Linked DNA regions of Homo sapiens. The protein of the gene in region 3 purifies or fractionates together with the protein of the main gene of each other region. This does not show direct contact. Each region holds a gene or a part of one and is shown on either strand. Other genes may lie near its edges. The genes, in order: POC5, NOP14, LTV1, NAP1L4 and DDX10.

Region 1 (4,725 bases), on a different chromosome or scaffold from region 3:
TCCTTTAGCTTCTTAAGAATTCGAGGGTAAGATTCAAGTCTGTGCTAATTTTTTGCCTCCTGACACAGTACCTGGAGCAAAGCAGATGGGCAACAAATCTGTGCCCGGCTATAAATGGATGTCCGGAGGGGCATCCACTTATGGATAGGAGAGTGGTGTTGTTCAGAAGAGGAGGACTTGGGCAGACACCTCAGCTGCTTGTCTGCAGAAGTAGCACTTAAGTGTTTTCATGAATTAAAGATTATAATTTTTTTAAACATACCTTGATTTCGTATAAAATTGAACATTTTATAGAATTTTTTTTGAAACAATGGATTTTAATGTCAGTCATTTTCTTTGTTATACTCAAAATTCTGTCCCATGGTTTTTAAGTTTAATTTTTTTATTTTGAAGTATCACAAAGAATATAGATATCATATGTTCAGTTTATGAGAATGAGTAAAGTGGATAGACAGGTACTACGATTCAGCTTAACACATAGAATATTTCCAGTAGCTTAGAATGTATGCCCTTTTCCTCTCTGGAAATTATTTAAAGAGCAGTTATAAATATCTCTTGGTAAATGTGCCCAATTTACAAAATCTCTTTCTAATGTGACTATTTTTAGAAATTTATTTCAGTTATTCAGTTCTTTTATAAGAGAGAATATTATCTTAGGATTTTAAAGCCTTCTGAATTTTTTTTTAAGAACAAGAGTAATAATATCACTGAAGAAGTACATCAACATATAACATTAATAACATTAGTTATATATAATGTTATTAATATGTTATATGTATAACATTAATTATATATATTTACTTATATATATAACATTTTATGTATGACATATGTTATATATGTTATTAATAGTTATATGTATAACATGTTATTAATAGGTATATATAACATATATAATATATAGTTATATATATAACTATAACATATTAATAGTTACATATATAACTATTATTTGCTTTTATAGGTTTGTTTAATCCAGAAAATCATTGGACAGTCGTTGAGGAACTTCTATATCCAAGATAGTAGTAGGGACCAGAAAGATATTTAAATATCTAAATATTCTGGCCCCTGCCCTCAAATCTAGTGAATAAAGACATGGTGTATATAGGAGAACTTTCAAATGTATAATTGTTTTACCTGAATTGAATGTCAGTAGCTAATTTGCATATACATAAACTTTTTATTGGTGATTACCATATACACATAATGAAGACTTCCTTCTTCTTTTGTTCCCTTTCATTAGTTGATATCTAGTATATTCATGTGAGAAAGTTTTACCATCTTTTTAAAGATAATAATGAGGTTAACTGAATGAATATAGTAGTGATCCATACCTATCCTCTCTAGCATTTTTTGATATATGAGAAAATCACTTTACCAATTGCTGTTATTTTAATATCACAATAATTGGGTTAATTGCTGTTTACAGGTGATTTCTAGCTTGTCTCATGCCATAGGCAAGCAAAAGGAAAAGATAGAGTTGATGAGAACATTCTTCCACTGGCGAATCGGCCATGTCAGAGCCAGACAGGATGTAAGTGTCAAAGCAGAAGACAGCTGATGGATGTTAGACTTCTGAATTCAGAAGTGCTCAGGATCACTTATTATAGTTGTTTTCTAATAAGTCAAAATGAATTTGTGATTTAATGTTCCTCTTATTTCAAAGGAATTTGATTTTGATGTAGTTTGGAAAAAATACAGTTTAGATCTTATTGACATATAATATATATATATTACAATAGATACATCATTTCCTGCTTCATAGTAGGTTAATAAGGATTGTTCCTAAATTGTAAAGGCCCTGGTAATAGAACCCCCTCAGATGTGGTTATTGGAGAAAGAAGTTATGTTTAACATATCAAATGCTTCCTATATTGTTTCTACTTTTAAAATGCCTGAATACAACTTATTCATAAAGAGGCTTTACTATATTTATACATTAAATCACAGTATAAATGTTTGTTATGTAGACTTGCCTTAGAGTGAGAGTCAGAGAAAGCCATACCTGTACAGCTTTTTAAAAGTTATCCTTAGCTTGTAGTATATCATTTAAACTTGAACATCTTTTATTTTAAGTAAGAGCTGAGTTGGTATATCAGTAAATAGTGAACTGAAAGAGAATACTAAATTGTTGTATCAAAAGTGGAAAAGTATGAGTATATCCCACAACAAGACATAGTTTAGAGACACATGAATATAGGAGATGAATATATATATATATGCTTTCCATGTATATTCATGTGAGCTATGGAATAATCTCTGTGTATTTAGTTTCCAAGAGATTAGTATTTAAGGAAAAAGCTAGTACAGGTTGAGTATCCCTTATCCAAAATGTTTGGCACCAGGAGAATTTTGGATTTTAGATTATGTTTCATATCACACCTTATGCACAAAATTCATTTATGTTTCATATTTCACCTTATACATATAGCCTAAGGTAATTGTATACAATATTTTTAATAATTTTATGCATGAAACAAAGTTTGTGTTAAGTACTTCTGTGTGGAATTTTTCACTTGTGGTGTCATGCTGACACTCAAAAAGTTTCAGATTTTTGGATTAGAGATGCTCAACCTACTTTATCCTGGAATAAGATTTCTCCTTTAAGAATACTTTCTGGATTTTTCATTTTTTTAATTAATCCCAGTAGATTAAATCCACATTAAGTAAGCTGGTTAAAATGAATATTTATACTCTACTTTGAAACTTGTCAAGTGAAATAATGAGAATACATATTTATTTTTAAATGTTAGCCAGAATAGTTGAGGCTACTGTCACTTTTGGATAGTTTTTCAAACTGAAGAAATTGAGAATTGGAACTACTTCTTCAAAAGAATTTAAATTCATTGATAAAAGAAAAATAGCATAAGTTTTTATTTGGATTGGCACCATATATGATGGCAGGGTTTATAAATTAAATCTTGCTTGTGGTGGCCATCAAACTGAAGAGAAAGCAGTGTCATCTGAAGCCACAGCCACCACCATTTCCTGCCTTCTAGCCACTCTGTTATTCTCCTGGTCCTGCTAAATTCATAACTAAGATGGCAAGTGGTGATTTGCTCATTTTCTTTCATTTGGTTGTATTCTTTTTCTCTAACTTGATTAGTTGCATAAAGCAATGATGTAATGGATAAGAGCTCAGTCTCTGGAGTCAGGCAAGTCTGGCTTTACTCATCTACTTATGTGAACTACGTAGCTTGCTTAACCTCTCTAAGCCTGTTCTCCTATATGCAAGATGAGAATAATATGATTACATAGAATTAAATAATGTGTATATGTACACTTACCACCATGTTATGTTTATTATTACTACCAATATATTTATCAATCAACTGTGTTTTTGAAGTTATATTTTACTTTTATTTAGGTTTATGAAGGTAAACTAGCTGACCAGTACTACCAGAGAACTTTACTGAAGAAAGTCTGGAAAGTCTGGCGTTCCGTAGTGCAAAAGCAGTGGAAAGATGTGGTAGAAAGAGCTTGTCAAGCAAGAGCTGAAGAAGTTTGTATCCAGATTTCCAATGATTATGAAGCCAAAGTTGCTATGGTAAGCATCTTTTTCTGGTTTTCACTTTCTTCTAATACAATAAAAAGATAGATAGACTCACTATTAATTAATAGACTTCTTCTTTTGGTCTTTAATCAAGAATGCAGACAAAAAAATGAAAACGTTTATTCTTGTGTTAATTTAATGTTTATTGTATATTCTTACATGGTTGATATAAGGAGTTGTATAGAAATTGAAATTATTAGTTGGGCGCGGTGCCTCACTCCTGTAGACCCAGCACTTTGGGAGGCCGAGGCGGGCAGATCACCTGAGTCAGGAGTTTGAGACCAGCCTGGTCAACATGGTGAAACCCCGTCTCTACTAAAAAAATTAGCTGGGTATGGTGGCACATGCCTATAATACCCGCTACTCGGGAGGCTGAGGCAGGATAATCTTTTGAACCTGGGAGGCAGAAGTTGCAGTGAGCTATATCACACTGTTGCACTCCAACCTAGGCAACAAGAGCAGAAATCCATCTCAAAAAAGAAAAAAAGAAATTGAAATTATTTTTTCCCATTGACTTTTAATAATAAAATTAACATTGTTTTCATGGGAAAACATTTGGAATTGAAATGAAATAAAATCCATTCTAAAGAATGCAATAGGCCTCTTGAAGTTAAATATTAAAATGAAAAAATAACTCATTACAGCATTAAATTGTTAAGATTAAAAATAAATCCATAATACAAATAATTTTCTGCAGTTCACTACGACATGCAAAAAATGCAGTCCCCTGAGGTTTGGCCTATGGGAAAGTGTGTTGTACCTAGGGTCACTCTGCACTTCAAATACTGAAGGTAACATTTACATTATAAAAATTCTGTTAATATTGCAGGCATGTAGTTTATTTTATTTTTTTCTGAAAGGGCTGTCTGTGGCTCTTAATGTATTTTGTTTAACATCCTACATAAAAGTTTTACAGTAAAAAATGGTGTATCTTTTTGTGAAATGAAAATACATCAGCAATATTCAATGGGACTGGATAAAATTCCCCTTGTTTGAACCTTGATTTTAAGGTTAGGAATGAAAGCATTTTGTTGATGGAGATAATAGAGGTAAGAGGTACCTTTTAAAATAAATTGCACATAGCAGAAGAGGTAAGTGACAAACTTTTTAATATTTCACATGAGAATAATCTCAAAGTATATATCTATTTTTTTGACAGTATTCTTCTTTGT
Region 2 (4,725 bases), on a different chromosome or scaffold from region 3:
ACAGCAACATGAGCCCCGAGGAGAAGATGATGAAGAGGTTTGCTCTGGAACAGCAGGTATGGAAAGAAACTGGAGGAGGGTTTTTGCTGTACATTTCACAGGGAAGTCAAGGCCAAGGAGAAGGCTGACTCTGCATGTTTTGCATGTTCCTGGGCACTCGGAAGGTCCAGGGGATAGCCCTCGAATCCTGTGCCTTATCTGGCTAGGCCAAAGGAGAAGCAACCTCTTCTGCAAATGTTAGCTGAATGGATAAATGCCTTAACTCTACTACACGGCAGCAGTGTGCACAGGAGTTCTCAGCTGAGCAGCATTGCTGGAGTGGAAACTGGCCCCTGGGCTTATTTAAGAATTCCCCTCCATGAGGCCGGGCGCGGTGGCTCATGCCTGTAATCCCAGCACTTTGGGAGGCTGAGGTGGGTGGATCATGAGGTCAGGAGATCGAGACCATCCTGGCCAACGTGATGAAACCCCGTCTCTACTAAAAATACAAAAATTAGCCAGGCGTGGTGGCGCATGCCTATAATCCCAGCTACTCAGGAGGCTGAGGCAGGAGAATCACTTGAACCAGGGAGTCAGAGGTTGCAGTGAGCCCAGATCACTCTACCGCACTCCAGCCTGGGCAACAGAGCGAGACTCTGTCTGAAGGAAAAAAAAGAATTACCCTCCATGAGTTTCATTTCTGTCTGAATCATGAATCATTGCTTAGTTGACCCAAAATACTCTTTAAGGCTGCTTAGGATTCGTTGTCATATTTCAAATATAATGGAAATATATATATCTACCTTATCTTTTTTTTTTTGCTGTGAAATGGAAGTGGTAATTTTAGGAAACTTTTTTTCTCTTCTGTCAGCGACATCATGAGAAAAAAAGCATCTACAATCTAAATGAAGATGAAGAATTGACTCATTATGGCCAGTCTTTGGCAGACATCGAGAAGCATAATGACATTGTGGACAGTGACAGCGATGCTGAGGATCGAGGAACGTTGTCTGGTGAGGCTGGGGTGCTGTGCACGGGCCTGTGGGCGTGGAGTCAGGGAGAGTCTGTTCATTGTTAGACCTTCTGCTCTTCTTAGAGACTAGAGAAAGTTATTGCATGAAAGTTTTACTGATCATTAACCTCTCTACAAATTTCACAAGTGACAGTTTTTATGTATTTTTGTTTTTTTTTTAAGTTTTCAGAACTTTAAGATGGTGTGTAGATAGATGCTTTTATGGGCCAAGAAAGCATGTTGATATCCATTATTTTATTTGAACCTCAAAATAGCTCGTTCTACCCATGAGCTCAGAGAAATAAGGTGTTTTGCCCGATGCCAGAGTCAGAGCTGTGGGGAGAACCCACCTCACTGACTCCAGGTGCCTCACTGAATGCACTACTTTGCTCCCCCTACTTTATCAATTCCAGCCTAATATTTGTACCAGTGGCATTGATGTAGTTCCTTTAGCTTTTACCTACTGTGGAATTATAGCAGTTTGAGGAAAATCATATTGAGCCTCATATCTGTAGATAACAACATGAAACAGATAAATTTTGGCCTTAAATAATGTTAACAGAGTTTAAGATTCAGTTCGGGTCTGACTGTCTTGAACCCTATTTATAAGGTTGCAGTCATGACATCAATTACTTGACATTTCTTGTAAGTTAAAGTAGGTCCCATTTCCAGCATCTTCAGAACAAAGGTGTACAAATCTAAAACTGACTCTCAAAGCTTTGTCTTGTCAGTGTGTGAAAGTTAAGGCGTTAAAGCCTGGGGCTGCCTTCTGATATTTGGCTAATCCAGGGGGTAAAAGGCTTAGGAATTAGGGCAGCAAGCATGTGGTGCAGAACCCGCCATCTGCGGCACACCAGGAGGCCCCGCCACTGCTCGGCTTCACGGGCGTGAAGAGAATGGCCAGTTATTTTAACCCCTCTGTGCCTTTGTCTTTGCTCTTTTCATTGTTCAAGACTTCTCGTGGACCCTTAGCTATAAAACGCATTCCCTGGGGAGATCCTAATTCCCCGAGACTGGAGGTAACTGCCTTGGTGTGAGTTGGGCGAGTGGCCTTCCCCTCATTGCCAGGAGGCGCTGTGGCGCAGGTGACTAGAGGGGGCGCCGTGGCGTGCAGGTGACTAGAGGGGGCGCCGTGGCGTGCAGGTGACTAGAGGGGGCGCTGTGGTGCAGGTGACTAGAGGGGGCGCCGTGGCGTGCAGGTGACTAGAGGGGGCGCTGTGGTGCAGGTGACTAGAGGGCGCCGTGGTGCAGGTGACTAGAGGGGGCGCCGTGGCGTGCAGGTGACTAGAGGGGGCGCCGTGGTCCAGGTGACTAGAGGGGGCGCCGTGGCGTGCAGGTGACTAGAGGGGGCGCCGTGGCGTGCAGGTGACTAGAGGGGGCGCTGTGGTGCAGGTGACTAGAGGGCGCCGTGGTGCAGGTGACTAGAGGGGGCGCTGTGGCGTGCAGGTGACTAGAGGGGGCGCCGTGGTCCAGGTGACTAGAGGGGGCGCCGTGGCGTGCAGGTGACTAGAGGGGGCGCCGTGGGGTGCAGGTGACTAGAGGGGGCGCTGTGGCGCAGGTGACTAGAGGGGGCGCCGTGGCGCAGGTGACTAGAGGGAGCGCCGTGGCGTGCAGGTGACTAGAGGGGGCGCCGTGGCGTGGAGGTGACTAGAGGGGGCGCCGTGGCGTGCAGGTGACTAGAGGGGGCGCCGTGGTACAGGTGACTAGAGTCTCCAGGCCCTGCCCAGGGAGGTGGGAGGGACACAGATTGCACCACTGATCCTGGGCGACGCTCCCACCAAGACCCTGGAGTCAGCTTGCTCTGGGTTTGCCAGTCTTCGCTAGAACCAGCACAATCAAAAATAGGTGCTGGGTGTTTCCAGCCACTTGGGTTACGGCCAGTTGGGAGTGTAATGGGTCTGGGTTTTCTCAGAGTGGCTTACCTTGGGTATTTCTCAAGTGCCATTGTGCCTGTGGTCTCAGGCCAGGCTGTTGCGTGTGAGCATTTTTTTCTCAAATGTGGACTTTTCCAGACCACTATGGGGGAAGCACTGGCAGAGTGCTACAGGAAACACTTCCCACGCCAGGGCTGGGCTTCACTGTGGGGTTTTCTGCCTTTTGCCCCCAGCTGAGCTGACTGCTGCCCACTTTGGAGGAGGCGGTGGGCTCCTTCACAAGAAGACTCAACAGGAAGGCGAGGAGCGGGAGAAACCGAAGTCCCGGAAAGAGCTGATTGAAGAGCTCATTGCCAAGTCAAAACAAGAGAAGGTGGGTTAGTGAGTGTTCTTGATCATCTTCTCCACGGTAAGACAGGCTCACCAAAATGTGTTTGAGCTTTTTTTTCCTGTACCTTTTTAGGCTGTGTTTAATATTTTATATGAGTTCAGTAAAAGCATTTATTGTGAGTAGGAATTTTAAAAATCACATAAAGCATATACCTCGGACAGGTTTTGGTTCTTTTGCCTTTTTTTGGTTTATGTTTTGTTTTATTTTGAGACGTAGTCTCTGTTTCCCGGGCTGGAGTACAGTGGCACGATCAAAGCTCACTGTGGCCTCAAACTCCTGGGCTCAAGGATCCAGTGATCCTCCCACCTCAGCTCCCCAAGTAGCTAGTGGGCGCCACCATGCTCAGCTAATTACTTTTTGTAGAGATGGGGATCGTGCTGTGTCGACCAGGCTCAAGCAGTTCTCCCACCTTGGCCTAGTTCTAAAGCACAGGGTGGGCCACTGCACCTGGCGCGGATGGGTTTTTTGTTGTTGCTGGTTTTAGTATCTGACATGTGCCCAAAAAATCACTTTTTTATTCATTTGCAGTGAACTGCTCAGAGCATCTAAATTAATGGTTTATGGCAGGAAAAGATTTCCGTCTGATGAGATTTGGTAGCTTTGCATTTAAAATACTCATTTCTCCTGGCCTCTTTTCTGTGTTGAAACGTTTGGTGCCAACTGAGTGATCACTGTGTGTGTCCTTGGCACTGACATTGGGCCTCTGGGTTGAAGTCCAGTAGTAACGGTATGTGGTGTGTGTCTGTTATTTTTTCCCCAGAGGGAGAGACAAGCTCAACGAGAAGATGCCCTCGAGCTCACGGAGAAGCTAGACCAAGACTGGAAAGAAATTCAGACTCTCCTGTCCCACAAAACTCCCAAGTCAGAGAACAGAGACAAAAAGGAAAAACCCAAGGTGGGAGCCAAGTACTGAAACAAACTCTTCACTCACTGAGCTTGGGTGACCGACTTTCTCCAGAGAAAGGGCTGGGGCTGGACGGCTCTTCTACCTGTCTCCTTTAGGGCAAGTTTCTGTTGAACATTGATACTGAATTACCTGCTGTGTGTAATCTTGGGGTGGAAGTAGATTCAGTTACTTGAGTCTCTATTGCAGGTGAATTAAACTGAAAAAAGTGGTGTTTCTGGATGGAAGAAGTACTTCAGGGTGGACACGTTAGAATAGGTGTCTGAACTTCCCTGTGACATGTTTGTCTGTTGATACATAATACATACATTTAATATACATTTACTTATTTTTGCCTCTGTAAACAGTTGTTTCCTACTGCATTCTCTTTAGTCGAAACTATTGGAAAATGCTGCATTTGTTTAAGAAACTGCGTTCTCAGAGAAGTCTAGATCCCAGCAGATTAGTGTCATGTGGTCATCTGTGCATCTTTGTCAGTCAGCCTTGATGTTACCGTTACTTTACTTAGTTTCCCACGTTTAGGGCGTAATGCCTGGATAAGTAGCGTTTTTGTTGTTGTTTGAGA
Region 3 (4,725 bases):
CAGAGTAGGCCTTGATTTTATAGGTCCTTGAGAACCAGGGCCTTAAATACAGAGTGAAAAATTGAGACCTGTCAGAAACTCAAGAAGGTCACATGAAAAACTATTAAAGGAGCTTAATCTCGCCATGGGTATGAAGGTTGTAGTAGATATAGACTAGCTATATGAGCGGTTGCAGTCATTTATGTTTTGGTTAACTATAAATGAGGTGATGCCCCAAAGAATAGAGTGAAATCACTGTATGTAAGAGATTTCAAGGGGACATAGGACAGAGCAAAATGATTTATAACCACCCGAGGATTTAAGATTGCCAATTCATACAAGGGCTGTGCCATTACTAGAGATTAGGACATTATCTCTAGTTTAAGAGGAAAATGTTTAATTTTGGTTTGAAATTTCAGGCAAGTGGAGTTAAGAAACTCTGGGATTTGAATCCCAGAATCTCACTTACTGATCATTCTCAGGCAGGTGGGCCATTTAAACTTTCCTAGTTTTTGTTCTTTTGGTAAAACATGGTGATACCTCATGGGATCTGAGGGATAAATGGAATAATTTGCTAGAGAAGGCATTGTGATGTATTATAGAGAGTTACTTTTGGGTTTATGATGGAATATACATGTTTAACATATATACAACCTGGAGCACAGGTGAGAGAACACAGAATGTAGTTGTAATAGTTTCCTAGGACTGCAGTAACAAATTACCACAAACTAGGTGACTTAAAACAACAGAAATTTCTTCCTTCATGGTTCTGGAGGTCAGAAGTTTGAGATGAAGGTATCAGCAGGTTTGGTTTTTTTCTTGGGGGCTTAGAGGGAGAGGCTGTTGAATGGCTCATTCCTAACTTCCGAAGGTTACCGGTGATCATTCCTTGGAATTCCTTGCCTTATAGAGGCCTCACTCCAGTCTGCTGTCATCTGCACATGGCATTCTCCCCTGTGAGTCTCTGTCTTCATGTGGTCTCGTTATAGGACCATGGTCCAGTAAGACCTCATCTTATTATAGTTGAGAGGACCCTATTTCAAATATGGTCAGTCTAAGGTTCTGGATGGACATTGATTTGGGGGGGACTTCAACCCGGTACACTAGTTAAGAAGAATTTCCAAATAAACCTAACCATTGTGCAATTTCTTTTTCAAGAGCACTGGAATTAAGTTGCCTTCATCAGTGTTTGCTTCAGAGTTTGAGGAAGATGTTGGATTGTTAAATAAAGCAGCTCCAGTTTCAGGTATTTTTAATTGCTTTATCTTTTCATATGGATAAATGTATTTTGCAAAACATAAAGAAATGATGTAGGATTTTTCTATCCCCAGTAAAGTATTGAAACAATTGAGATATGTCTGGAATTCAGATCAGGGATTATTAGGAAGGGATGAATGTGATCTTTGTATTTTTGTATTCCTACCATCAAATCTTTATATCTTTTGAGTTCCTGTTTGGAGAGGAAAGTGGGGAAACTATTCTTGGTAATCTAGTTAGGGGAATTGTAACCTTCACATAACCTCTTGCAAAGATAGTGGTATTAATTATTCATTACTTGTAGTGTAATTTTGAAAAATAATCTGTTTTTCAGAATTTCTCCCCAGAGCATACAGGTATTTTTATGGAAGTTCATTTTGCCATCTACACATATATTGGGGGAAATTTTTTATTTTTAATTTGTAGTACCAACACTGTATTTCAGAACAAACACAAAAGTCTACAGAAGTGGTGTTGGTATTTTCTCCCAAGTTGCCTTAATTATTAACTAACACCTGTCCTGTGGCATTCATTAATTAATTTATTGTACAGATTTTTGAGTTGCCACTGTCTGTGTGGCAGGGCCTTGGGTTAAAACAGAATAAAGCATAGTCTCTGACCCAAGAATTTACCTCATTTGGGAAAAATAAACAATAAATGATAAATTACAGTATAGATGGATATTAATAGTGGGGTGAGTAGCACCAAACCCAGCATCACAGGGTTGGGCAAGGCTTTCTAAAGAAGGTGATATCTAGTTTGTTTCTTAAGTAAAAGTTAGGTAGGTGGAAGAAGGAGGGGGAGGGGTGGGGACCAGAGGATGTTCCAGACAGAGGACTGTATGTCCTAAGGCAAGAGAACGTGAATATAGGTAACTATACACATTTTAGCCTGCCCAGAAGGAAGGGTATGGATTAAAAAGAAATGAGGCTGGAGGGTTAAGTAATGGCCATGTAGCAGAGGGTGTTGGAGGCCATGTCAGATGATAAATTTGGAGTTGAAAGTTTTTCATGAACTTGAGTTTTTTGTTTTCATTTTCTGCTCCTTGTGGAGCAGGGCTAAGTCCTAAGCAGTGTGCCCAGAGTCAGCCTAGTATATTTATAGATGGAAGAACATATCTGAAGAAACAGGTAGGTATTTATTAAAATCGCAAAGTCAGAAAATACTGAAAGTATAACAGTCTAAAAATTGTTCGAGTTATTTTTAACAGGTGAATTTAAAGGCCAGTTTCTTCTTGCAGACAAAAGCTTTGAATTATGCTAGACAAAGTTAAACATTATAGATGTTTAATGGAACATTATTTTCACCAGTGGATATTAAAAGGAGAAGCATCATTTCTTTTTTCATTTTTTTTTTTAAATTATACTTTAAGTCCTGGGATATATATGCAGAATGTGCAGGTTTGTTATGTAGGTATACACGTCATGGTGGTTTGCTGCACCCATCAACCCATCATCTACATTAGGCATTTCTCCTAATGCTATCCCTCCCCTAGGCCCCCATCCCCCAACAGGCCCCAGTGTGTGATGTTCCCCTCCCTGTGTCCATATGTTCTCATTGTTCAACTCCCACTTATGAGTGAGAACATGCGGTGTTTGGTTTTCTGTTCCTGTGTTAGTTTGCTGAGAGTGATGGTTTCCAGCTTCATCCATGTCCCTGCAGAGGACATGAACGTGTCCTTTTTTATGGCTGCATAGTATTCCATGGTGTATATGTGCCACATTTTCTTTATCCAGTCTGTCATTGATGGGCATTTAAGTTGGTTCCAAGTCTTTGCTATTGTGAACAGTGCTACAATAAACCTACGTGTGCATGTGTCTTTATAGTAGAATGATTTATTATCCTTTGGGTATGTACCCAGTAATGGGATTGCTGGGTCAAATGGTATTTCTGGTTCTAGATCCTTGAGGAATCGCCACACTGTCTTCCACAATGGTTGAACTAATTTACACTCCCAACAACAACATAAAAGCGTTCCTATTTCTCCACATCCTCTCCAGAATCTGTTGTTTCCTGACTTTTTAATGATTGCCATTCTAACTGGCGTGAGATAGTTTCTCATTGTGGTTTTAATTTGCATTTCTATAATGACCAGTGATGATGAGCTTTTTTTCATGTTTGTTGGCTGCATAAATGTCTTCATTTGAGAAATATCTGTTCCTATCTTTTGCCCACTTTTCAATGGGGTTGTTTGTTTTTTTCTTGTAAATTTAAGTTCTTTGTAGATTCTGGATATTAGCCCTTTGTCAGATGGATTGATTGCAAAAATTTTCTCCCATTGTGTGGGTTGCCTGTTGACTCTGATGATAGTTTCTTTTGCTCTGCAGAAGCTCTTTAATTTAATTAGATCCCATTTGTCAATTTTGGCTTTTGTTGACATTGCTTTTGATGTTTTAGTCAAGAAGTCTTTGCCCATGCCTATATCCTGAATGGTATTGCTTAGGTTTTCTTCTAGAGTTTTTATGGTTTTAGGTCTTACGTTGAAGTCTTTAATCCATCTTGAGTTAATTTTTGTATAAGGTGTAAAGAAGGGGTCCAATTTCAGTTTTCTGCATATGGCTAGCCAGTTTTCCCAATGCCATTTATTAAATACGGAATCCTTTCCCCATTGCTTGTTTTTGTTAGGATTGTCAAAGATCAGATGGCTGTAGATGTGTGGTGTTATTTCTGAGGCCTCTGTTTTGTTCCATTGGTCTATATATCTGTTTTGGTACCAGTACCATGCTGTTTTGATTACTGTAGCCATGTAGTATAGTTTGAAGTCAGGTAGTGTGATGCCTCCAGCTTTGTTCTTTCTGCTTAGGATTATCTTGTAAATTACTTTGGGCAGTATGGCCATTTTTATGATATTGATTCTTCCTATCCATGAGCATGGAATGTTTTTCCATTTGTTTGTGTCCCCTCTGATTTCTTTGAGCAGTGGTTTGTAGTTCTCCTTGAAGAGGTCCTTCACATCCCTTGTAAGTTGGATTCCTAGGTATTTTATTCTCTTTGTAGCAATTGTGAATGGGAGTTCCCTCACAATTTGGCTCTCTGTTTGTCTATTATTGGTATATAGGAATGCTTGTGATTTTTGCACATTGATTTTGTATCCTGAGACTTTGCTGAAGTTGCTTATCAGCTTAAGGAGATTTTGGGCTGAGATGATGGGGTTTTCTAAATAGACAGTGATGTTAATCTGCAAACAGAGACAATTTGACTTCCTCTCTTCCTATTGGAATACGCTTTATTTCTTTCTCTTGCCTGATTGCCCTGGCCAGAACTTCCAATACTGTGTTGAATAGGATTGGTGAGAGAGGGCATCCTTGTCTTGTGCCGGTTTTCAAAGGGAATGCTTCCAGCTTTTGCCCATTCAGTATGATATTGGCTGAGGGTTTGTCATAAATAGCTCTTATTATTTTGAGATATGTTCCATCAATACCTAGTTTATTGAGAGTTTTTAGCATGAAGGGGTGTTGAATTTTATCAAAGGCCTTTTCTGCATCTATT
Region 4 (4,725 bases), on a different chromosome or scaffold from region 3:
GAGTTTCTAAGCGGTACTTGGGCTGTGCACCCGCAAGTTCTGACTGTGGAAGAGCTGGCTTCCCTCAAGCCCAGAAAGGAAAGTGACATGCAATCTTGTTGTTTTCTTCGGGAGCACGGGTTTCTTTTTTTTCCTTTTTACCTAATTAGATAGAAGTTCAGGAATTTCTATTTCTTTTGGGTTGATGAACCACAGGCTAGCATAAGTCCACTGTCAATAAATGTTTGTTGTGGCCAGACCTCCATAAAAGAGATATTCCCTGTGTTCACAAGTTCCCTGAAGCTTAGGTTTTGAGAGAATATTGTTGAGTCACTAGGCAGGGCTCACATAGGAAACTGGCAATCACCTCTGAAACTGCTTCACAGACACCTGCTTTTCCTGCTCTGTTCCTCAGACTTCTCCTCTTCAAGCGTATTCCCCCCACAACAAGGACAGCAGCTTGGACTACATATCTGGCTGATGATGTAATAAAAAGATTAGGCATGGGGGTTTCCTAAGCCACAATTCAGGGCCACTCTGCACCAACAGAGATAAGCACCCAGGTGGAAGCCCCCCTTCCCCGAGCCTCATACATTGTCATCATCTTCTATGGCCTCCCCAGTGAAGTACAGCACAGCCCGCGGGACTATCCGCTCACGGAAAAAGTGTCCAATTTCAAAATCAGAGGCTAATGTGAATTCAGAATCTTCATCCTGAGGAGGAAAAACCTACGTGTTAACTCATTTTAATGGGATAAAAACATTCACTTCACCACCCTCAGCCAAACCTCAGCCCCTCACTTTTGATTTACTTAACTTAAAACACCAAACTCCTGCACTGCTGGGGGACAGCCACTAGACACTCAAAGCCCCTTTAAAACAACTTTAAGTAGCTTTAAAGAGCTACTGAAGCAAAATGGCAGAGAAAGTGGGAAGTGAGGGCCCTACAGCTCCACAACTTGTCCAAAGGTCTCACCCAGAGTAGGCGGTATCAGTCTCACATATGGGAAACAGGCAGTATTAAAGCACTGCACATTTGCTACTGAAATCAACATATGAAACACATACTTTTACTTAGATGTGTAATGATTTCAAATTAATCCCAGAGTTTTAGGAAACAGAAATGGATTTTTTTTTTTTAAGAGACAGGGTCTTATTCTATCACCCAGGTTGGAGGGCAGTGGTGCAATCACAGCTCACTCCAGCCTCAAGCTCCTGGGCCCCAGCGACCCTGGAACTACACAGTGCACCACCATGTCCAGCTAATTTATTATTTTATCTTTTGAGACGGAGTCTTGCTCTGTCGCCCAATGGAATACGGTGGTGCAATCTCAGCTCACTGCAACCTCCTCCTCTCGGGTTCAAGTGATTCTCCTGCTTGAGCCTCCTGAGTAGCTGAGATTACAGGCGCTGCCACCGTGTCCAACTAATTTTTTTTTTTTTTGGTATTTTAAGCAGAAACGGGGTTTCACCATGTTGACCAGACTGGTCTTGAACTCCTGACCTCTGGTGATCCACCCACCTTGGCCTCCCACAGTGCTGGTATTACGGGCGTGAACCACCATGTTCGGCTGGCTAATTTATTTGGTTTTAATTTTTTGTGGAGATGGGGTTGTGCTATGTTGCCCAGGCTGGTCTCAAACTCCTGGACTCGTGCAGTCCTCCCACCTCAGCCTCCCAAAGCATTAAGATCACTGGCATACCCAGTCCACACACAGCCAGGACTGGACTTTTTTTAACAAGTAGACAAGTAGACATTCACTCAGGAGAGACTTCAACAGGAAAATAAGACTATTAACAACAAATCTTACCAGTGATTCTCCATCCCCGGATGCTAGAAAAAGAAAAGACAAAACATATTTAAATTACAGTGACAACTCCCAGAATTTTAAAGCCCACACAGGAGGAAGCTGTGCTGGTAGATAAAATGTAACATTTCTCACCTCGAGGTTTAACAGAAATCCCCAAAGCCTTGCATCTCCTCACAGACATCTTTGCAAGCTCCATCCACCACTTCTGAAGCTGGCCTGAGTGCCTCTATGCCCCCCTCCCTTCTCCTCCTCCATCATGTGCCATGGGCTGGCACTCAAGCTTGAGAAGATCATTTTGAGAGAGTTAATATATTAACAGGAGGAATGGCAAACAGCCCCCAGGCTGTGGCCATTCAGTGCATTTGTGCTTTATGGGGAAACTTAACTCATGTCCCGCAGAACTATACATGATGGTGCAGGAAAGAGAAAGTCCTTAAGCCTTATAAGCTGTGAGTGTTACTAAGGCACTGCAAATCAGCGAGACAGAAACTGCATTTCTGTTTGTTTGGAGAGTGCTGGAATGCCCACCAGGGGCCCCTGTAGAGTGGCGCAATTCCTCAGCGAAAGCTGATGCTCAGACGAGCTAAGCCCACCAAGACAGATAGGGACTTCTAACCACACTCAATGAAGCTGTGCAACGTTCAACTGGTAGAAGATCCAACCCCCTGATTTTAGAAACATTTACTACAAGACCCTGAGCTTCATCAGGAGTTGAATGTTTACTCTGCTTAGTCTCATACCTGCCTTTTCAATCTTCACTGGGCTCTCCTCTCTGAGTCTCCCTTCCCATTAAGCGACCACAACCCTGGCAGCACTTGCTGTTTGCTGCTGAGACATGAATGTTGGGTGCGTAAACACCACCCATGAGTGAGGCAGAGTTCCCAAGCCTCGGTGTGCCAGCATCACCCAGGGGTTTTAGACATGGGTTAGGAGCATGGCTGGGTGTCTAAATGCTGGAGCAGCATGCTCCCCAGGGCACTCTGGCCCAAGTCATGAATAGTACAAGGACTCTGAACACTCATACTTCTGGACTGGCTTTGCAGTTTTAAGGACAAAGGAGCTGGACTCACTAGCTAATGCCTCCTTCACTTCACACCACAGGAGTCCATTTTGTCTGTTCCTTCACTACCCCATTACCTATTCCGCAGCCATCCTCAATTTTTTTCAAAGCACTTACCATTTGGTATTATGTGTTTGATTACTTTAAAAGTGGCTTTACTGATGGGATTTACATACCATTAAAAGGCATACACTCTAAATGTACAACTTTATGACTTTCAGTACGTTAATTTTAGAGTTGTGCAACCATCATACCCTAAAAGTTTTAGAATCTAAAAAAAAAAACACTTAAAAATTCCCTTGAGTCCATTATCAACTCCATTTTTATCCTAAAAATTATTTTTAAATCAGTTTTAAGAGAACTTCCTACACAAAGTGATTCCAGAAATTAAAGCCTCCCTTCTTCACGCTGAATTCACAGACAATCTCCAGTATGCCCAACCCAAGTGTCTAAAAGGAATCTTCCAAAAAAAGGAAATGTAATATCTAAATTTATGACTGCTCTCATTCCCCAAACCGTATGTATTTGCATCTTCTAGGTTCAAAGTCTAATTGCAGAAAATAGGCACCACAATTAAAATAATGGACTGAACTCTGAAGGGCAGCTTGATAAATAAGGGTGCTAAGCTCAGAGACAAAATCAAAAAATCAATCACTCAGACTGGAGAAGAGATCCGCCCTGTGGCCCCACATACAAACAAACACTCACTGATTATCTGCAGCAGGGGCTGGCATCTCTTCACTTCAAATTATGTTTTAGTTCATGGAAACTAAAGAGAATATGGATATTTTAACACTGACAAGTTGCTTGACCTTCACATTTTCTCGCGATTAGGAAATTATATGAAAAATCCCAAGAAATTTACTCTTAAAATCAATTGGTCAACCTTTACTAGCTCAAAGGTCTCATCTTTATTTTACCACTTAGGAAAATTTAAAAAATAAATAAATAAACAAAAAGAAGCAGCTTCCAAGCTGTGATTCTGCCGATGTTTTTCAAAAATGAAAGTCCCAACTACTTGTGTTTCTTACAATATATAAATTCCAAAAAATTCTATCAAATTATGCATAAAAAATTACAAGAAAAGGGGGACTAAGCAGATGATCCAAAAGCAGCACAACTAGAACCAGCGTACAGCAGTAACGGGTACCTGCAGAGCAAACCCAGCAGCTCTCCGAGGCTGGGAGTGGTCCCCGGGGGGTGCGAACCAGACACAACAGCGGGGCAGAAATGCCAGCTGGTGGAGAAGGGTGCTCCAGGTGTCCAAGTGAGGAAGCAGCCCAGGTGCAAATACTCGATTCAGTTTTCTTAAAACAGAACTGCAAGTTTTTGCCTGGGCTACAGCCAAGCAGAGTAAAGCTCTTCCCTTTCCTGCAGAAGATGACAATCCTACTCTTACTGTCCTAGCTACCTCTGCCCCCCGCGATAAACTTGCCAGCGCACCAACAGAACAGCCTGGGACACAGCAATGTGCCCCTACTGACCACACTTGCCTGAAAAAAGAGGACTAAAGTCTCTGGGTGTTAGGAATCTATCAGGTGACCAAAATTATTTTATATAAGAACATAATGAATATTAACAACCAACAGACTTGCCTTTCAATGGATTGAAGAAGTTGAAAAAGGACTCATTGGGTACTTGTTTCGTAATTGTTCTAACAGTGCCTCGACCCTTATGCTTCTGCTTTTTCTTGATGGTTTTGACAGTAACATTCTTTCCTTTCTTCCAGTCAATAGTACACCTACCAGGACAAGACAGCTGTCAGGAACACACAATCCATGAGAAAAATCCATTACAAATGCATGCAGGAAGCAAACCACAGCTCTATGCCAAACCTGGAAAACGAAATAAAACCAATCTGCAAACCAAATACAAT
Region 5 (4,725 bases), on a different chromosome or scaffold from region 3:
GCTGTTTTTACTATTGCTGAATGACTCTTTGCATCTGGGATTCATTTAGACTGTAATCAGCTGTACTGCATAGAAACTGCATTCAAATCCTGATTTTTTTTTTTTAAATCAAAATTTGGTCTGGTGTAGTTGAGGCGGTTTGCTGTTCTTCTCTTGACGGCAACAGGTGGAGCATTCTAGGGCGTTTCAATGCTTTTTTCATCAGGCATTATTCACTTTAGCGAGAAATAGGCATTACCAGAGAGTTGTGAGAAGTATAAGAGGATGGTCAAATGTCACCCTTTTCTCCTCCGCTTTTCAACTTTTCCAACAGCCGTGGGAAGCCTTTAATAAGGACCATCCCTGAAATATCTCTTCCCTGAATTCAGAAGAATAGTGAGACAGATTTGTAGACTGAGTATGAGTATTATGGAGATGTAAGTGATTTTTCCCCCCTAAGAAAGGGATAAAGGGAAGGAGAAAGAGTTATTTTTTTGAGGTAGAGTCTCGCTCTGTTGCCCAGGCTGGAGTGCAGTGGCTCTATCTCTGCTCACCACAACCTCTGCCTCCTGGGTTCAAACGATTCTCCTGCCTCAGCCTCCCAAGTAGCTGGGATTACAGGCGCACGCCACTGCATCTGGCTAATTTTTATAATTTTAGTAGAGACAGGGTTTCGCCATGTTGGCCAGGCTGGTCTTGAACTCCTGACCCCAGGTGATCCGCCTGCCTTGGCCTCCCAAAGTGTTGGGATTACAGGCGTGAGCCATCGTGCCTGGCTGGGTTATTTTCTTTGTAGGAACCGTAGCCATCTCCTGCTGTGGCTGCTATGTAATCCTTGGAATATAACAGAATATCTAGAGCAGGGTCAGCAAACTCTTTTTCTGTAAAGGGCTGGATAGTCTGTGTTAGGCTTTATGGTCCATACAGTCTCCGCAACAACTACATAGACAATAAATAAATGAATTATTGTAGTTGTGCTCGAATAAAACTTTACTTACTAAAATAGGCAGCAAATTGGATTTGGCCCGTAGGCTGTAGTTTGCTGGGCCCTATTTTAGAACATCAACAGAATCAAAAGTTCCTTTTCTTCGTCTTCTTTTAAAGAATATGGCGCCTGTAATCCCAGCACTTTGGGAAGCCGAGGCGGGTGGATCACGAGGTCAGGAGATCAAGACCATCCTGGCTAACACGATGAAACCCCGTCTCTACTAAAAATACAGAAAAAATTAGCTGGGCGTGGTGGTGGGCGCCTGTAGCCCCAGCTACTTGGGAGGCTGAGGCAGGAGAATGGCGTGAACCCGGGAGGTGGAGCTTGCAGTGAGCCAAGTTCGCGCCACTGCACTCCAGCCTGGGCGACACAGCGAGACTCCATCTCGGAAAAAAAAAAAAAAAAAAAAAAAAGGAATATGGTATATAGTTTTCTGTTGTAATGCTTGATTGAAGAGTGTTGGAGCAGTTTCATTCTTCTAAACTTTCCCTCCAGGAGGTTAACTGACTTTAGGAAGATAGATGTGCTGTGCAATGTTTTGTTTGAGGAGCTCGCTTTGCCTGTACTGTGTCTCTTGCTGGGGATTGAAGAGTGTGTTGGCAGCCTGCCTCCTTCTGTAGGCATTCCATTCCCTTTGAAAACAGCTTTTTAGCTGATAATACCACGAGTGCTAGAGTGAGCTACACCTAATTTTAATGCCTTGTTTGGAAGATTATCTTCTAATTGAGGTTCCTTGCTGGGACAGTATGTTATTTGAATAAACCGTTCTTCTAATGCTGGTACACTGATTCTGCCTCCTTTCCAGTGATATCTGAAATGATTTGTAGGGATTAAGACAATGTTTTAATATTTGTATTTTCAGCATTGGAGGGCACAGAGTAAACACTGCCTGGGCAATGTTAAGAATCATAGGAAAGATGTGTAGATTGTAAAATGAAGTACAACTGTCATCCTTTTACTGCCTAGAGTGTAATTTAAATAAATGAACCATACAAATGCAGCTTTTTCCTTTTGCGAATCATGTATAATTTGGCAGCATATTTCCAGAACTGAGCAGTAGTTCCTGCCTTCAGCATCTGTAATAAAATAATTCTCCTGAGCAGCTGAAATGAAATTCAGAAAATTGGGTTTGTGCTAATAAAGAACATCAGTAATGAATATTTGAATAATGTAAAGTTAGCAAAATGTTACTTATTGTGGCTTCAAAGCATGACAGACATTTCCCCTGTGTTGAAATAATACTCCTCCTTCAGTAACCCCAAAATGAATAGTTATCAGGTTGGATTTCATAGGCCACTGATTTATGGTTAAAACTTTGAAAGGATTGTGCTAACAAGAAATATTTCTCCAACTAATTTCACTCTTTTTTCCAAATTGTGTGTATAGAACTATTTTCATTGTGATCTGTGGTTTGTGGTAATTTTGTCCTTGTTTCTTAAATTGAGATCCCTTGAAGGATGATAGGAAGTAAATTTTCTTCCTAAAATTGATGTGGTTGGTGATGCTTTACTGTGTTCAACATTTTGGAGGTCAGATAGTAGTATGTGTGGTGTGTGTGTATTGGGTGACTTTTTTTTCCTTACCAATTGAAATGCTTACAAATGTATATTCGATTCAGGGACAGCCTCTTCAGGGCATATTTCGTTACAGAAGGAATGATGGCTTTTAATTAGAAGCGATGATTGAATTCAACCCTGAATTACCAAGGATGAGCTGGGCAATACAATGTAGAGAAGAAATGGCTGTGTCGTGAAACAAATGAGTTACCCTGATTCCTTTTTCTTTTTTTCCAGATAAATGTAAATGAAATCACAAGATTTTCAGATTTTCCCTTGTCCAAAAAAACATTGAAAGGTAAGTATATGGTGATCTTGGGATGTGTTATTGGATTTCTTGGCATTTTTGATAAATGGGAGAAGATTTAGAGGGTTTAGCCTGAAAAATCTTATTTTGGCAAATTTTGATATCATGAAAACCAATGAAAATAAGCAATATTCAAGTTTTAACAGTACGTTATTCTCATTCTTTCTGGACTAATTAAAAGAAAAACAAGTTTCCAGCATCCTCTGAATAAAATGAAATCTAATTTTGTTAGTTAAAATAAGCAAGGGAACAAACCAAGATGCAACACCCTTTGTATCTGTTTGCTAGGGCTGAGATGACAAAATATCAGACTGAGTGGCTTAAACAACAGAGACTGATTTTCTCACAGTTCTGGAAGTTGGAAGTCTGGGATCAAGATGTTGGTGGCATTGGTTTCCTCTTAAGGCAAAATAAGGGAAGGATTTGTTCCAGGCCTCCTTGGCTTGTGGATGGCTGCCCTCTTGCTGCCTTTTTATTTTTGGATACATAAAAATTGTATATATTTGGCCAGGTGTGGTGGCTCATGCCTGTAATCCCAGTACTTTGGGAGGCCGAGGTGGGTGGATCACAGGGTCAGGAGTTTGAGACCAGCCTGGCCAACATGGTGAAACCCCGTCTCTACTAAAAATACAAAAATTAGCTGGGTGTGGTGGCGGGCACCTGTAATCCCAGCTACAGGCTGAGGCAGGGGAATCACTTGAACCTGGGAGGCGGGTTCATGCCACTCTACTCCAGCCTGGGCAACAGAGTGAGACACCGTCTCAAAAAAAAAAATTGTATATATTTACAGTGTATACATGATGCTTTGAAATATGTATATGCTGTGGAATGGCTAAATCAAACTAATTGTATATGTGCTAATATTACCTCATCCTTTTGTGTTTAGAACTCTTAAAATCTACTTAGTATTTTTTCTTTTTTCAGTATATTTTAATTAACTATAGCAGTATATATTAAGAGAGATATATAATAGATCTCTCTTTTTTTTTTTTAAGATAGGGTCTTGCTCCGTCACCCAGGGTGCAGTGCAGTTGTGTGATCTTAGCTCACTGCATCCTCAGCCTTCTGGGCTCAAGTGATCCTCCCATCTCAGCCTCCTGAGTAGTTGGAACTGCAGGTGCATGCCACTGTGCCTGGCTAATTTTTAAAAATTTTTGGTAGAGATAGAGTTTTGCCATGTTGCCCAGGCTAGTCTTGAGCTCCTGAACTTTAAGGAATCTGCCTGCCTTGGCCTCCCAAAGTGCTGGGATTATAGGCGTGAGCCACCACGCCTGGCCTACAATAGATCTCTTGAAGTTCTTCCTTCTAACTGAAATTTTGTATGTTTGATGAACATCTTCCCACTCTCCTTACTTCCCCCAGCTTCTGGTAACTACCATTCTACCCTCTGCTCCTTTGAATTTGGCTTTTTTAGATTCTACATATAAGTGAGATTATGTGGCATCTTTATTGCTGTGCCTGGTTTATTTCAGTTAACATAAGGTCCTCCAGGTTCATCCATGTTGTTGTAAATAACAGGATTTCCTTTTTAAAGGCTGAGTCATATTCCATTTGTGTGTGTGTGTGTGTGTGTGTGTGTGTGTGTGTGTATGTGTATGTATATAACATATATTTTCTTTACTCATTCATGGACACTTAGGTTGATTTCATATCTTGGCTTCTGTGAATAATGCTGCAATGAACATGTGAGCACAAATACTTTTCAAAGTAGTGGTTTTATTAATAAACCCTTTGGATTATACCCAGGAGTGGAGTAGGTGGATCACAGAATAACTTGTCTCTCTTCACATGGTTTTCCCTCTGTGCATGTGGACCCTTGGTGTCTCTTTGTTCAAGTTTCTTCTCATAAAGACACCGTTTGTGTTGGATCAGAGTCCACCCCTATGGGGCTCTAA

The links.
Region 1: the proteins of LTV1 (region 3) and POC5 purify together in Homo sapiens (co-immunoprecipitation; one large-scale study listed by IntAct). This does not show direct contact.
Region 2: the proteins of LTV1 (region 3) and NOP14 purify together in Homo sapiens (affinity purification with mass spectrometry; one large-scale study listed by BioGRID and IntAct). This does not show direct contact.
Region 4: the proteins of LTV1 (region 3) and NAP1L4 fractionate together in Homo sapiens (co-fractionation; one large-scale study listed by BioGRID). This does not show direct contact.
Region 5: the proteins of LTV1 (region 3) and DDX10 purify together in Homo sapiens (affinity purification with mass spectrometry; one large-scale study listed by BioGRID and IntAct). This does not show direct contact.

Annotation. Positions count from the first base shown.
Region 1 is NC_000005.10:75,689,205-75,693,929, reverse strand, and holds part of POC5 (centrosomal protein POC5), read left to right. Parts: intron 1-1,429; coding exon 1,430-1,534; intron 1,535-3,367; coding exon 3,368-3,547; intron 3,548-4,725. UniProt on the Homo sapiens protein: Essential for the assembly of the distal half of centrioles, required for centriole elongation. Acts as a negative regulator of centriole elongation.
Region 2 is NC_000004.12:2,952,937-2,957,661, reverse strand, and holds part of NOP14 (nucleolar protein 14), read left to right. Parts: coding exon 1-56; intron 57-850; coding exon 851-992; intron 993-3,098; coding exon 3,099-3,238; intron 3,239-4,016; coding exon 4,017-4,151; intron 4,152-4,725. UniProt on the Homo sapiens protein: Involved in nucleolar processing of pre-18S ribosomal RNA. Has a role in the nuclear export of 40S pre-ribosomal subunit to the cytoplasm.
Region 3 is NC_000006.12:143,848,994-143,853,718, forward strand, and holds part of LTV1 (protein LTV1 homolog), read left to right. Parts: intron 1-1,137; coding exon 1,138-1,225; intron 1,226-4,725. UniProt on the Homo sapiens protein: Essential for ribosome biogenesis.
Region 4 is NC_000011.10:2,953,955-2,958,679, forward strand, and holds part of NAP1L4 (nucleosome assembly protein 1-like 4), read right to left. Parts: intron 4,591-4,725; coding exon 4,445-4,590; intron 1,813-4,444; coding exon 1,790-1,812; intron 693-1,789; coding exon 573-692; intron 1-572. UniProt on the Homo sapiens protein: Acts as a histone chaperone in nucleosome assembly.
Region 5 is NC_000011.10:108,670,707-108,675,431, forward strand, and holds part of DDX10 (probable ATP-dependent RNA helicase DDX10), read left to right. Parts: intron 1-2,760; coding exon 2,761-2,821; intron 2,822-4,725. UniProt on the Homo sapiens protein: Putative ATP-dependent RNA helicase that plays various role in innate immunity or inflammation. Plays a role in the enhancement of AIM2-induced inflammasome activation by interacting with AIM2 and stabilizing its protein level.